2 separate regions of the Homo sapiens genome follow, and region 2 is linked to region 1. Evidence: fine-mapped expression QTL. Tissue or cell type: uterus. Region 1 holds a variant in brackets; the other region holds the start of a gene. All regions are shown on one strand. Distances are from middle to middle.

Region 1 (8,102 bases):
GGAGACCCCCTCTCTACTAAAAATTTAAAAACTTAGCCCAGTGTGGTTGCACCTGCCTGCAATCCCAGCTACTAGGGAGCTGAGGTGGGAGGATCGCTTGAGTCTGGAATGTCGAGGCTGCAGTGAGCTGCAATTGTGCCACTTGCACTTCAGCCTGGGTGACACAGTGAGATGATATCTCTGAAAAAAAAGAAACTGAACCAGGCTTATAAAATAATAATTATAAAATGGTTGCTTTTCTTTGGAGATGGAGAGAGGAAATGGGCAAGTTGTCATTTACCATGCCCTCACATTTTTGGTCTTAAATTACTGAGCTTTAGTATATATTAATATATATAAGATATGACCTGATAATCCCATTTAAAGCATATTAGCATTGTTCTAACAGTAACATATTTCATTATACTTCAGGATCATCCAGGGATGAAGCTTTACCATCCAGGAGCTCGAAGCCCAGGTCGATTCTGGTGGCAAGATGGCAGCACCAATCTGGAGATTCAGCAGTAGAAAGAAAGCAGGAAAGTGATATTAACCATAGAAAAGAAGGAGGAAGGGAGTGTTAAGTCCAGATGGCCTTAGGTGTACTGACTGTCTAGGCAGCCAAAGAGCACACGTTAAGCAATCCAGAAGTGCCTTCAGGGCAAAGAATAGAGAGAAAGGGGGTGGTTGTGCTGGTGGGGTACACTGCAGAGGAGTAAGTCTTGTGTCAAAGCAGGAATCTGATCAGAGGTTCAGAATTGGAAGTACAATTTCATTGCTTTTGCAATTTATACAAATTAATTTTAGTGTCAGAAAAAGCTGATGGTGAGGACATGCATTGCAATTTGCAGGGAAATGTCAAGTGAGGACTTCATTACGTATGACACGAGAGAAAAGTAAGAGCTGGTTCTAAAATCAAAAGCTGTTGTTCATCCCGAGTTGAATTTTCTTTTTTTTTTTTCTTTTTTTTTTTTTTTTTTTTTTTTAGACAGGGTCTCACCCTGTTGCCCAGCCTGGAGTACAGTGGCTCAATGTCGGTTCACTGCAACCTCCACCTCCTGGGTTCAACTGATTCTCCTGCCTCAGCCTCCCGAGTAGCTGGGATTACAGGTGCCCGCCACCTTGCCTGGCTAATTTTTGTATTTTTAGTAGACATGGGGTTTCACCACGTTGGCCACGCTGGTCTTGAACTCCTGACCTCAGGTGATTCCCCCCGCTTCGGCCTTCCAAAGTGCTGGGATTACAGGTATGAGCCACCGTGCCCGTCCATTCCAATCTAGTTTTATTGCATTGTTGATGATAACTGTTGACTTTGGGAAGTGTAGAAGCAACAAGCATGTCCTTGTAGTATAAGTACAGTGAAGGATAGAACAAACTTTTGTTGGTGCCAAAATTTAAATAGTCATGTTACTTCTGCATCTAATGTCCTAAAGTTTAAGGATTACTTTTAGTTTTTTGTTTGCTTACATGAGCTTAGCATGAAGAATATTTTCAAACATCTGCTTTTATCTTCAGCTTTTTTTATTTTTTATTATACTTTAAGTTTTAGGGTACATGTGCACATTGTGCAGGTTAGTTACATATGTATACATGTGCCATGCTGGTGTGCTGCACCCACTAACTCGTCATCTAGCATTAGGTATATCTCCCAATGCTATCCCTCCCCCCTCCCCCAACCCCACCACAGTCCCCAGAGTGTGATATTCCCCTTCCTGTGTCCATGTGATCTCATTGTTCAATTCCCACCTATGAGTGAGAATATGCGGTGTTTGGTTTTTTGTTCTTGCAATAGTTTACTGAGAATGATGATTTCCAGTTTCATCCATGTCCCTACAAAGGACATGAACTCATCATTTTTTATGGCTGCATAGTATTCCATGGTGTATATGTGCCACATTTTCTTAATCCAGTCTATCATTGTTGGACATTTGGGTTGGTTCCAAGTCTTTGCTATTGTGAATAATGCCGCAGTAAACATACGTGTGCATGTGTCTTTATAGCAGCATGATTTATAGTCCTTTGGGTATATACCCAGTAATGGGATGGCTGGGTCAAATGGTATTTCTAGTTCTAGATCCCTGAGGAATCGCCACACTGACTTCCACAATGGTTGAACTAGTTTACAGTCCCACCAACAGTGTAAAAGTGTTCCTATTTCTCCACATCCTCTCCAGCACCTGTTGTTTCCTGACTTTTTAATGATTGCCATTCTAACTGGTGTGAGATGGTATCTCATTGTGGTTTTGATTTGCATTTCTCTGATGGCCAGGGATGATGAGCATTTTTTCATGTGTTTTTTGGCTGCATAAATGTCTTCTTTTGAGAAGTGTCTGTTCATGTCCTTAGCCCACTTTTTGATGGGGTTGTTTTTTCTTGTAAATTTATTTGAGGTCATTGTAGATTCTGGATATTAGCCCTTCGTCAGATGAGTAGGTTGCGAAAATTTTCTCCCATTTTGTAGGTTGCCTGTTCACCCTGATGGTAGTTTCTTTTGCTGTGCAGAAGCTCTTTAGTTTAATTAGATCCCATTGGTAGTCCTTGTTTGATTCTTGACAATCCAGTGTGTGTTTTATCTTAGGTCTCATGATCTGAGTGTGTACCCTCTCCAGGAAGGAAACTGCATCAATGTCTGTTCCTGTTAAATAGCAACTTTTAGTCTCAGCTTGTTTTGTTTTGATGTCAATAAATAGTAACAACATTCAAGTATGAAGCTAAGTGTGTTTATTAACTTCACTAAATAGCTGTTATATTTGAGAAATTAAATTTTTGATACTGAATTAACCTCTGGAGAATTTCAAAAGTGCATGAATGATATTAGTTTCTGCTTTCACTGGCATGCCTTTGTTTTGTCTACCAGGGAAAAATCAGTTCATGGTTCACTCCTATATTAGGCCTGATGTTTTTTGGCTGTGCCCCCACCCACATCTCATCTTGAATTCCTACATGTTGTGTGAGGGACCCAGTGAGAGGTAATTGAATAATGGGGCAGGTCTTTCCTGTGCTGTTCCCATGATAGTGAAGAAGTCTCACAAGATCTGATGGTTTCATAAAGAGGAGTTCCCCGGCACAAGCTCTTTTTGTCCTGCTGCCATCCATGTAAGACATGACTTGCTCCTCCTTGCCTTCTGCCATAATTGTGGGGCCTCCCTACCCATGTGGAACTGTGAGTCCATTAAAGCCTCTTTTCCATCCCAGTTTCGGGTATGTCTTTTTTTTTTTTTTTTTTTTTTTTTGAGACAAGGTCTTACTCTGTCACCCAGGCTGGAGTGCAGTGGCGTGATCTCAACTCACTGAAACCTCCACCTCCCAGATTCAAGCAATTCTCCTGCCTCAGCCTCCCTAGTAGCTGAGATTACAGCCATCCGCCACCGTGCCTGGCTAAATTTCGTATTTTTAGTAGAGATGGGAATTCACCATGTTGGCCAGGCTGGTCTTGAACTCCCGACCTCAGGTGATCCACTGCCTCGGCCTCCCAAAGTGCTGGGATTACAGGCATGAGCCACCACTCCTGGCCTCGGGTATGTCTTTATCAGCAGTGTGAAAACGAACTAATACAGGCTGTTCTTACATTATTATAAAGAAATACCTGGCCGGGGCTGGGGGCAGTGGCATATGCCTGTAATCCCAGCATTTTGGGAGGCTGAGGTGGGTGGATCACGAGGTTAGGAGTTTGAGACCAGCCTGGCCAACATGGTGAAACCACATCTCTACTAAAAATACAAAAAATTAGCTGGGCGTGGTGGCACACGCCTGTAGTCCCCAGCTACTCAGAAGGCGGAGGCAGAAGAATCACTTGAACCAGGGAGGTGGAGGTTGCAGTGAGCCGAGATTGTGCCACTGTACTCCAGTCTGGGTGACAGAGTGAGACTCCATCTCAAAAAAAGAAAAAAAAAAAATACCTGGCCAGGTGCAGTGGCTCCCGCCTGTAATCCCAACACTTTGGAAGGCTGAGATGGGCGGATCACTTGAGGTCAGGAG[T/C]TTGAGACCAGCCTGGCCAAAATGATGAAACCCCATCTCTACTAAAAATACAAAAATTAGCCAGGCATGGTGGCAGGTGCCTGTAATCCCAGCTGCTCAGGAGGCTGAGGCAGGAGAATCACTTGAACCCAGGAAGGTGGAGGCTGCAATGAGCCGAGATCACACCACTGCACTCCAGCCTGGGCAACAGAATGAGACTCTGCCTCAGAAAAATAAATAAATAAATAAATAAATAAATACCTGAGACTGGATAATTTATAAGAAAAGAGATTTAATTGGCTCCCAGTTCTGCAGGCTGTACAGGAAGTGTGGCACTGGTATCTGCTCGAGTTTTGGGAAAGCCTCAGGGAGCTTTTACTCATGGTGGAAAGTGAAGCAGAAGACATCCCACATCACAGAGTGAGCAAGAGAGTGAGTGCGGGGAGGAGGTGCCACACTTTACAACAACCAGCTCTGTAAAACTCACTATGGAGAGGACAGCACCAAGCCATGAGGGATCTGCCCCATAACCCCAACACCCCACCAGGCCCCACCTACAACACTGGGGATTATATTTCCATGAGATTTGGGTGGGGACAAATATCCAAACCACATCAACTATTCTGGTCCCTTAAGAACAAAATGTTTAGACAACATCCTTGAGCTTTTGCCTGATTTTCATTCATTCTGCCAGCCCTTCCTAACATGGCATCACTTTGCCTTTACTTTCTAAATAACTTTGTTTCCTCAGCTTTTAGAAACAAGTAGCCCAAGAGGGAGGTACAAGAGCCACCAAAAATGATTGAAAGTGAATGACTGTCAGATGGGCGAGAGGATTAAGGGAAGGGAAAATTTCAAGAAGGAGATTGGCTGACATTGTCCCATGCCACAGAGAGATTAAGGAAGACAAGAAATGGAAGTGTTCATTGGATTTGGCAGTCGTGATTTCATTAGTGAACTAATGAAACTGATGACCTAAAAGAGATAGAAACCATGTTATAGTGAGGGGTGAATGGCAGGTGGGAAATGGATGTATGGATTTGGAATTCATCCATTTTTAGGGGTCCATTGAAGTCATGACCATGGATTCTGTCACTTTATGGGGAGAGAGTGAAGTAGGAACAGAAGCAGACCTAGGGCCCAGCCTTAAAGAACTCTTAACATTACACAGAGGTAAGGAAATGTATCTACAAAGACAGAAAGAATAGCCAGAGTAGGAGAAATACCAGAAGACTCCGGTGTTACTTAATCCAAGAGAAAAGTGTTTCAAGGAGGAGGAGTGGCCAGCAAGGTTGGCCACTAAAAATACGGCTGGGCGTGGTGGCTCATGCTTGAAATGCCAGCACTTCGGGAGGCCGAGGCGGGAGGATCACTTGAGGTCAGGACTTCAAGACCAGCTTGGCCAACATGGTGAAACCCCACCCCTACTAAAAATACAAAAATTAGCCGGGCGTGGTAGTGCACATCTGCAATCCAAGCTACTTGGGAGGCTGAGGCAGGAGAATTGCTTGAACCTGAGAGATGGAGGTTGCAGTGAGCCAAGATCGCGCCACTGCACTGCTGCCTGGGTGACAGACTGAGACTCTGTCTCAAAAAAATAAACACCAAAAAAAAAAAAAAAGAAAAAATATTAAAAATACAAAAGTCAGCCAGGCGTGTTGGCACAAGCCTGTGGTCCCAGCTACTCAGGAGGCTGTGTCAGGAGAATTGCTTGAACCCAGGAGGCAGAGGTTGCAGTGAGCCAAGATCACACCAGTGCACTCCAGCCTGGGCAAGAGAGCAAGACTCTGTCAAGAAGAAAGAAAGGAAGGAGGAAAAAAATGGAAAGGAAGGAAGGAAGGAAAAAGAAAGAAAAGAGGAAAGAAAGGGAGGGAGGGAGGAAGGGAAAGAAAGAAAAGGGAGGGAGGGAGGGAGGGAAGAAAGGAAGGAAGGAAAAAAGGAAAGAAGGAAGGAAGGAGAGAAAGGGAGAAAGAGAAAAAGGAGGAGGAAGGAAGGAGAAAGAGAAAGGAAGGAAAGAAAAGAGAAAGAAAAGGGAGGGAGGGAGAAAGGAAGGGAAAGAGAAGAAGGAAGGAAGGAAAAGGAAATAAGGAAAGAAGGAAGGAGAAAGAAAAAAGAAAGAAGGAGGGAGGGAGGGAAAGAGAAGGAGGGAGGGAGGGAAAGAGAAAGAGAGAGAAAGAAAAAGAAAAAGAGAAAGAAAAGGAAGCAAGGAAAAGAGTGAGAGGGAGGGAAGGAGGAAGGAAAGAGGGAAGGAGAGAGGGAGGGAGGGAGGAATGAAAGAAGGAAGGAAGGAAAAAAGGAAGGAAAGGAGGGAGAGAGAAGAGGGAGGGAGGAAGGAAGGAAAGAAGGAAGGAAAGGAAAGAAGGAAAGAAGGAAGGAAAGAAAGAAAAAAAGGAGAAAGGAAAGAAAGAAAGAAAAAAAAAGAAAGAGAAAGAGAAAGAAAAATGAGCCGGGCATGAGAGCTCTTCCAGGTAATCCTAGCATTTGGGAGGCTGAGGTGGGAGCATCACTTGAACTTAGGAGTTCGAGACTAGCCTGGGCAACATAGTGAGACCCTGTCTCTATTAAAAAAAATAAAAAATGTTGGCCTGGCACAGTGCCTCACACCTGTAATTCTAGCACTTTGGGAGGCCAAGGTGGGATGATTGCTTGAGCTCAGGAGTTCAAGACCAGCCTGGGCAATATAGTGAGACCCCACTTCTAAAAAAAATGAAATACTGATTCATGCTACAACATGGATGAACCTTGAAAACATTATGCTAAGTGAAAGAAAGCAGACACAAAAGGCTACATATTGTGTCTCCATTTATATAAAATATCCAGAATAGGCAAATCCACAGAGACGGAAAATAGATTAGTGGTTTCCTAGGGCTGAGAGAAGAGTGGGAATGAAAGAGTGACTGCTAGGCCAGGCACGGTGGCTCACATCTGTAATCCTAGCACTTTGGGAGGCTGAGGCGGGTGGATCACCTGAGGTCAAGAGTTCAAGACCAGCTGGGCCAACATGGCAAAACCCCATCTCCACTAAAAATACAAAATTAGCCAGGCGTGGTGGCACATGCCTGTAATCCCAGCTACTTGGGAGGCTGAGGTAGGAGAATCACTAGAACCCAGGAGGCGGAGGTTGCAGTGAGCTGAGTTCATGCCACTGCACTCCAGCCTGGGTGACAGAGACTCTATCTCAAAAATAAATAAAATAAAATAAAATAGTGGCCGGTGCGGTGGCTGACACCTGTAATCCCAGCACTCTGGGAGGCCGAGGTGGGCAGATCACCTGAGGTCAGGAGTTCAAGACCAGCGTGGCCAACATGGTGAAACCCTGCCTCTACTAAAAATACAAAAATTAGCTGGGTGTGGTGGTGCATGCCTGTAATCCCAGCTACTTGGGAGGTTGGGGCAGGAGAATCGCTTGAACTCGGGAGGCCGAGGTTGCAGTGAGCTGAGATCACGCCATTGCACTCCAGCCTGACAGAGCAAGACTCTGTCTCAAAAATAAAATAAAATAAAAAAACGGTGATTTTCATATTACGTGAATTGTATCTCACTTAAAGAATGGGAGAGAAGTTGGAAACAGTGAATGAAGACAAATCTTTACCAGGGTTTTGTTGTAAAGGGAAGGAGAAGAAGAAGTAGCTGGCAAGGGAGTTGGAGTAAAAAGCAGCTTTTTTAAGATGACAGCATATTTATTTGTATGTTGATGGGAATAATGCAGTGAACAGCAAGGACAGAAAGGGAAGACTAGTCAGAGCAGGGTTGTTGAATGGGCGAGAGAGGTTTGGATCTAGGGCACAAGCGAGCAGACAGGCCGGACATAGTTCAAACGTTTCATTCACAGTAACAGAGGGATGGGGGAATAGTCACGTGGAGGTGTTGGCAGATAGCATGTGTGGATGGGCTGTGGGAGTTCTCTTGTGATTGCTTAAATTTTCTCAGTGACTAGGAAGCCAGGTCCTCAACTGAGTGTGAGAATGGAGGAAGAAGGGTTGCAGGTTTGAGGAGGGAGAGGAGAGTCTTGACATAATTATCTAGGCCTAGGCTCAGCAAATTACAGCCTATGGACCAAACCTGGCCACTGCGTGTTTTTGTACAGCCTGAGAGCTAAGAATGGTTTCTGTATTTTTGAATGGTTGAAAAAAATCAAAAGAATATTTTGGGACACATGACAATTC
Region 2 (8,102 bases), 49 kb before region 1:
TGACCGGGGTGAGTCAGGACGGAGCAGGTAACCAGGGGAACAGATGTGAACTACTGATGAAAACTGGTGGAAAATGTTGTTTACTGAAACTACGAGGAAGTTAAACTTTACAATGGAGGACAAAGAACTGAACATACTGACATACTGATTCTTTGAAGAGAGATCTAGATCTCACTGTATCCAACAGCCAATATGGTGAAACCCCATTTCTACTAAAAATACAAAAATTAGCCGGGCGTGGTGGCACACGCCTGTACTCCCAGCTACTCGGGAGGCTGAGGCAGAAGAATCGCTTGAACCCGGGAGGTGGAGGTTGCAGTGAGCCAAGATGTAAGCCAAGATGGCGCCACTGCACCTCAGCCTGGGCGACAGAGCGAGATTCCGTCTCTAAATAAATAAATAAAGAAATCTCAGTCATAAATGTTGAGAGAAAGGAGCCTAACATAAAAGAATACATGCTGTATGATTCAATTTACATAAAGTTCAAAACAGACAAACTCAATAGTATTAGAAGTCATTCATAAAAGGATGTAGCTGCTAAAAAAGAAAAAGCAAAAAGGATAGTGGTATTCTTGGTGGCGAAAATGACTGGGAACAAGTAGGAAGAGAGCATCTGGAGTGCTGGCAATGTTTTGTTTCTTGATCTACATGCTGGTTACATAAGTGTGTTCACTTTGTGAAAATTCAGCAAGCTGGATGCTTACTTTTAGTGCACTTGTCTGTACATCTGTTATACTGCAATTAAAAGTTTCATCAAAAAGGAAGTCTACAGTATGTGTTAGGTAGAATAATATCTCCCCCAAAGTTGTACACATCCTAATCCCCAGAACCCATGACTGTGTTAGGTTATATAGCAAAAGGAAATTAATGTTGCTAATCAGCTGTCCTTAAAATAGGGAGATTATCCTGGATTTTACAGGCGGACACAATGTAAACACAGGAGTCCTTCAAAGTGAAAGGGGAAAGTGCAGAGGCCAGGAGTTGGAGACCAGCCTGGGCAACACAGTGAGACCCCTTCTCTACAAAAATGAAAATAAATTAGCTGGGCATGGTGGCATGCACCTGTAGTCCCAGCTATTTGGGAGGCTAAGGCAGGAGGATCACTTCAGCTCAGGAGTTTAAGCCTTCAGTGAACTGTGACCCTGAAAAAAAAACTTGGAATGGCAAGGCAGAGAATAAAAGAGATATAGACAATAGACAGAAGTAGGGGCAGGGTCAGAGAGAGATGCTTGAAGACGAAGGGTTCATAAGCCAAGGAATATGGGCCGCCTCAAGAATCTGAAAAAGACAAGGAAATCTATTATCTCCTAGAGCCTCCAGGAAGGAACTCAGTCCTGCCAACACCTTGATTTTAGCCCAGTGAGACCCATATTGGACTGTTTGTTTATTTATTATTACTATATTTTTTTGCCCCCTCACAGGACAAAGCTAAAACCTTGTTGGACTTTTAACCTACAGAACTGTAAGATAATACACTTGCATTATTTAAACCCACTAAATTTGTGGTAATGTTACAGCAGGAATAGGAGGCTAATACAGTTGGTGTGGGGGAAGATCAAGTGTTCAGTTTTGGATGCATTCGGTGGCTGAACACGTTAGACGTCTTAAGTGGAGATGTTCAATAGGCAGTTGGATACATGACTCTGGAAATCATCAGGGAGGTATGGGCTGGAGATGTAAATTCTTTTTTTGTTTTGTTTTGGTTTTGAGACGGAGTCTCGCTCTGTCGCCCAGACTGGAGTGCACTGGCACAATCTCGGCTCACTGCAACCTCGACCTCCTGGGTTCAAGCGAATCACCTGCCTCAGCCTCCTGAGTAGCTGGGATTATAGCTGCCTGCCACCACGCCCGGCTAATTTTTTTGTATTTTTAGTAGAGACGGGATGTCACATGTTGGCCAGGCTGGTCTCGAACTCCCGACCTCAGGTGATCCACCCGCCTCGGCCTCCCAAAGTGCTGAGATTACAGCTGTGAGCCACCACGCCCGGCCTGGACATGTAAATTCTAGAGTAGAGTTGTCAGCAAAGACAGAAAAGCCAAAAGAATGAATGAGATTAATAAAGGAGTGAGTGTACATAGAAAAGAGGTCTAAGGACTGAGCCCTGGGACACTTTATTCTGGCAACTGACAAACAGCTGGTGGTTTAAAGCTAGTGAGGACACCAAAACAGAGGCATACACTACCAACATGCAAGTGCAGAGCTAAGCAGTAGGTCAGAGGCAGATGCATAAACAAGGCTCATAAGAACGGCCAGGTACTGAAAGCAAGAGTAACAGATGTCAAATACAGGGAAACCGTTTTAGCCACAGGAATAGGAATCCAAGAATAGGCTGGACAATTGGAGTGAGAAAATTTAAGTGCAGAGTCAGGGGAATATATTCTAGAGGTCGGCAAAAATGGGAGTTGGCCCTTAGGCAGCTTTCTGCCTTGGGCTCCTATTGCATCTTTAATTTGGTTTCTGTCCTCTATGGGTGTCTGTGTCTCTCTCTCTTTTTGAGATGGAGTCTCACTCTGTCACCCAGGTTGGAGTGCGGTGGCACAACCTCGGCTCACTGCAACCTCCGCCTCCCAGGTTCAAGTGACTCTCCTGCCTCAGCCTCCCAAATAGCTGGGACTACAGGCGCCTGCCACCATGCCCAGATAATTTTTGTATTTTAGTAGAGACAGGGTTTCACCAAGTTGGCCAGGCTGGTGTCGAACTCCTGATCTCAGGTGATCCGCCGGCCTCGGCCTCTCAAAGTGCTGGGATTACAGGAATGTGCCACCACGCCCTGCTAATTTTTTTTGTTTTTAGTAGAGACAGGGTTTCGCCAAGTTAGCCAGGCTGGTCTCGAACTCCTGACCTCAGGTGATCCACCCACCTTGGCCTCCTAAAGTGCTGGGATTACAGGCGTGAGCCACCACGCCTGGCCGACTGATCTGCTTTCTATCACTGTGGTTTTATTTTTCTAAAATTTCATATAAATGGAATTGTACAACATGTACTCTGTGTCTAGATTCTGTCACTCAACATAATCACTGTTAGATTCACATTTGGATTGTTTCCAGTTTGGAGTTATTATAAATAATGTAAAATTGGCCCTTTTTAAGTGAAGATGGTGATCGCAACTAAATCAAGTTGGGTTTTATTTTTATTCCCCTCCCTGTGGGACATCAGTACCTGGGGAGAAGGATCCTTTTGCTAAAATAAGGTGATGAAAACAAATCTTGTATATTTTAGTCATATTACTCCTTTAAATATCAGTATCTTGTGTTTATTTATTATTATCCTTCTTTTTTATATACAGGGTCTCGCTCTGTCGCCCAAGCTGGAGTGCAGCGGCGCGATCATGGCTCACTGCAGCCTCGAATTCCTGGGCTCAAGATCCTCTCTTCTCAACCTTCCCGAGCAGCTGGGACTACAGGCGTGCGCCACTGAACTCGGCTAATATTGTAGTATTTACTAAGTATCTGTAAATCCTAATCAATATAAGGAAAATAAAGTTTTTTAAATGTTAGGCTTTTTCTTTTAGTTGTAGGAAAATAAATGCTAAAGCCTCTGAATTCAATGATAAAAAATACAAGTCGCTCCCCTAGTGAGGCAAAATTTGGACGGCATTGAGTTTATCTGATGGAAACTAAGCGTGAAGAACCTATCTTTCGACCTGGAAAACTCTGAAGATGAAAGGATTCGATTTACTCACAAACAGGGACCCTGAGATAGCTCTGGCCCCTGAACGCCCAACAAAAGCGGGTAGCTGCTTTGTATGCCGGGATTTGTAGTCCCCGACAGAGTCACTTCAAGATGGCGGAATTGCTAATGACGCGCGAAGGGGCGGGCCCCGAGGGAGTCTGGGCCGCGAGGGGATTGGGTGGCGCAGGAACTTGGCGGGCGGGAAGTAAAAACCAGGTGTTAAAACCTTTGCACTGGGAAAGGCCCAAGTCTCGCGAGAGCTTGGCAGGACCCAATGGAACGTGGGGCCCGACTTATCACAAGGGGCATTTGTTGGGGGCGGAGCTTTGACGGGAGCTTCCCGGGAGCCGTTTGTGCCCGGGGTAACCCCGTTCCGGCCAAGCCGCTTCAGCGGGGGACGTAGCCATGAAGGAAGAGAAGGAGCACAGGCCTAAGGAGAAGCGAGTAACCCTGTTAACCCCCGCCGGGGCCACAGGCAGCGGTGGTGGGACCTCGGGGGACAGCTCCAAGGGGGAAGATAAGCAGGATCGCAACAAGGAGAAGAAAGAAGCGCTGAGCAAGGTGCCCGGTCGGCCGCTGGCCCGGGAGAGGGCGGGACGAGTCCGCAGCGCGGGGAGGATGGCTGGGAATGGGGCTGCCCCCTTTCTTTCTCAGGTTCTCCTTCTATCTCTTCGCCTGAATGGAAGTCGCATCATCCTGGTTCATCCATTCACCCGAAATGGGGAGAGCCCCTCCCGGCCAAATCCTGGGTGGGGGTGAGGAAAAGAGGGGACTCCCCAAACGGGAAGGGTTTAGGTCAGAGCTGTGAGATGATAATGGGAGGGAAGAGCGACGGTATAAAGAATGAGGAACTAAAGGTGTAATTGGGGAGAAATATTAAATAGTGAAGGAGACATGAGGGATGGGAATATTATTCATGGAGGCGAGTTGGGGGAGAGTGCAGGGTGATTAATGGTACAGGAGGGTAGATCGAGAGCATCCTATTTTGAGAGCAATGGGTAGATTTTTTGTATTCGTTAGAGTTTTGAATTCTTAAGTTCAATGGGCAAGGATTTTGTTTTAAGATGTGTTGGACGTGGGAGAAACTTGTTGCTAAATCAAGATTTCGTGGCACCCACAAAGACCAGCGTTGGCTTACTAAGTTATTGCCACTAGATCTGTTAAAAAATGGGTGATCGAAAATGATGCACAAACCTGGTAAACTGCAGGGCTGCTGTAAAGAGCAAAACCTGCGATTTTTCCTTGCTCCAGGTGGTTCTCATTTCCAAGGGTTTTTTTAAACCGCGTTACTATTATGTTTGACTAATTCTGAGCATTGGGCTGCAGAAGAATATTTTCTCCTGGGTTTTTACAAGTGATCTCATATTTTAAAGCCCAGCCTTCTTCAGGAACTGTGATTCTTTCAGGTATGACAGAAAACTGATTTGTACTAATTTTATTTTCCTTATGCATTTCTTAAGGTGGTAATTCGAAGATTACCTCCCACTTTGACCAAGGAGCAGCTTCAGGAACATCTTCAACCTATGCCTGAGCATGATTATTTTGAGTTTTTTTCTAATGATACGAGGTAAAAAAAAAAAAAAAAGGAAAGGGGTAAATGAAAAAGGTTTCTTTCATTCTTTTTATCCTACTGTTTTTCATTTGATTTTTGAGCTTGTCTTTAATATATGCATACTTGTAATTGGGCCAGACACCTGCGAGTACATTTACATAATTGCTTTCCTCTCTGCAGTTTGTATCCTCATATGTATGCCAGAGCATACATCAACTTTAAAAACCAAGAGGACATTATTTTGTTCAGGGATCGCTTTGATGGTTATGTATTCCTTGACAATAAAGGTGAGTCCTGGTAACTGAAGTAAAAAGGGAATTTCTTTGTCATTTGTATGTTTAAGACAACTCGTGCATTGCGTTGCTTCCTAGAGTTTTACACATTTAATAAGCTTATTGCAGTCTTATAAATAGACGTGACTTTTCACAGTCCTTGGTTATTTTTATTAACCTACTATTTTTTTAGTTTGATCAACTGAGTGAAATTGCAACTGTTTTCTCCTCGTGTGACACATTTTTTGCCCTGGCTTAAACCTGCTGTTTTGACTGTAGAATTTCAGCCGCAGTACTGATAAGTGACTCTTAAACTTGTTTGATAAGTTTTAAATATTTACTTCTTATTTTGCTTCGAGGACAAACATTTATTTAATTCAAATCCATTAAGCCAACAGTTCCCAATTGGGATACTGTTTAACATTCTCACAAAGTTGTATATAATTAAAACATGAAACTTGATACATCTCGGCCTGGTGTGGTGGCTCACGCCTGTTATCCCAGCACTTTGGGATGCCGAGGCAGGTGGATCACGAGGTCAGGAGATCGAGACCAGCCTGGCCAACGTGGTGAAACCCCATCTCTACTAAAAATGCTAAAAAAATTAGCCAGGCGTGGCGGTCCACGCCTGTAATCCCAGCTACTTGGGAGGCTGAGGCAGAAGAATCGCTTGAACCTGGGAGGCAGAGGTTGCAGTGAGCTGAGATCACGCCACTGCACTCCAGCCTGGCGACAGAGCGAGACTCTGTCTCAAAATCGAAAAAAAGAAACTTGATACATCTCTTACTTTATATCCAGAAAGGTCCAGTCTATAGGGAAGACACATTTCTACTTTAACACTCTATTATCTGCTACCTACATTTAGCCAGAGAATATCTAAGCTGCCATTTGCCACTTTTCTTTTTGGTTTGCAATTATAGGTAAATAGTGTGTCTTCTTGTTTTGTTTTGTTTTTTTCAATATTACTTCAAAGTTGGTAAAAATTAAATTTTTGTCAGGGACTATGCCAGTAAAAATTGAAGGATTGCCACTGTTTGTCCAACTTTTATTAATCTCCCCAAGCCAGCTATTTTTCCACTCCAACTATTTTATTCCAGTAGATATTTAACTAGATTCTAGTTACTTAGCCTGGAAATCTGAGTTGTGTTTAATTTTTTCCTTTTTTAAAAATCTCTTACATGTAAGTTATGAATCTTGTCAATTTATTGTTTATCTTTTGAGATAGGGTCTCCACCCAGGCTGGAGTGCTGTGGCGCAATCAGAGCTCACTGCAGCCTGGAATTCCTGGACTCAAGCAATCCTCCCACCTCAGCCTCCTGAGTAGCTGGGACTACAGATGTATGTCACCATGCCTGGCTAATTTTCTTTAAATTTTTTATAGAGATGGGGTCTCACTACGTTGCCCAGGCTGGTCTTGAACTCCTGGGCTCAAGTGATTTCCCCCCCCCCACCTCAGCCTCCCAAAGTGCTGGGATTACAGGTGCGAGCCACCATACCCAGCTCAACACCACTTATTAAAGAGACTATCCTTTCCTCATTGTGTTTTTTGTTTGTTTGTTTGTTTTGTTTTGTTTTTAAATCTTAGAGACAAGGTCTGCTTATGTTGCCCAGGCTGGATTTTATTGTTTTTTTTTAATATCTTGTTCACCTAGCCTTAAACAGTCACACTTTATGTCCTCATCACTTAATGCCTAGACAACCACTGTCTCTAAACTTACAGGATTTTCCATTTTTTTCATTCTTGTATAATTCAGTCTATTATATTGCCATGAAATTAATCTTTTTGAAAATAATGATTTAAATTAACAGTTGGGGGAAAAAGTCCAAACTCCTTAGCCTGGTAGTCAGGGTCCTCCATATTCTGGCCTCACTTCTGTTTCTTCAGCCTGTCTTCCACAATTTCCCTCTGTTTCAGTCTGGTTTATCTATTCCTTCTCAAATATATCACAGTTTTGTTTTTTGGTTTTTATTTTTGTTTTTTTTCTTTTTCTTCTCTCTCTCTCTCTTTTTTTTTTTGAGACAGAGTCTTAACTCTGTCGCCCAGGCTGGAGTACAGTGGCACAATCTTGGCTCATTACAACCTCCGCCTCCTGGGTTCAAGCAATTCTCGTTCCTCAGCCTGCCGACTTAGCTGGGATTACAGGTGTGTGCCGCCACGCCCAGCTAATTTTTGTAATTTTAGGAGATGGGGTTTCACCATGTTGGCCAGGCTGGTCTCAAACTCCTGGCCTCAAGCAATCCACCCGCCTCAGCCTCCCAAAGTGCTGGGATTACAGGCGTGAGCCACCATGCCTGGCCTAATATATCACAGTTTTGAAGCTAATCTGATTCTCTACTCACTGGGATTCCCAACATAATTTTTCCTCCATGACTGCTTTGCAGTGCCTTCTGGTCAATTCTGTTTATTTTTATTTTTCTGCTTATGTCTACATGCCAATGATTTAAGGATAGGATACCTTGTTTTTGACATTCTGTGACAGGGTGCTTGTGAATTTTTTTCCCATTAGTCACTTGGGGTTTTTGTATTGAAATATAACTCACCTATAATAAAATTCATCCTCTTAAAGCGTACAATTCAGTGGTTTCTGGTATATTCACAAGGTAG

Direction of the effects. Positions count from the first base shown, and alleles are read on the strand shown. Sizes are in standard deviations (SD) of each study's normalised expression.
In carriers of allele T in region 1, the expression in uterus of the gene that starts at base 4,044 in region 2 tends to be lower than with C alone (moderate effect, 0.53 SD a copy in GTEx).

Evidence for each region. PIP is the estimated chance that this variant, and not a neighbour inherited with it, causes the effect.
Region 2: it holds the start of UPF3B, and the variant in region 1 is fine-mapped to the expression of UPF3B in uterus (GTEx, PIP 0.95).

Annotation. Positions count from the first base shown.
Region 1 is chrX:119,799,891-119,807,992 of GRCh38, reverse strand. It overlaps LOC107985694 (a long non-coding RNA gene), which reads right to left. Exons shown (of 3, transcript XR_001755949.2): 3 at 1-2,614. It also overlaps a transcript of UPF3B not described here. Among named protein-coding and RNA genes, the nearest start is that of RPL39, 12 kb to the right of the region's middle. The variant T/C (reference allele first, on the strand shown) is at 3,958.
Region 2 is chrX:119,848,905-119,857,006 of GRCh38, reverse strand. UPF3B (UPF3B regulator of nonsense mediated mRNA decay) reads left to right here and starts at 4,044. Exons shown (of 11, transcript NM_080632.3): 1 at 4,044-4,234; 2 at 5,134-5,240; 3 at 5,406-5,512. The coding sequence starts at 4,079. RefSeq lists an enhancer at 4,010-4,069.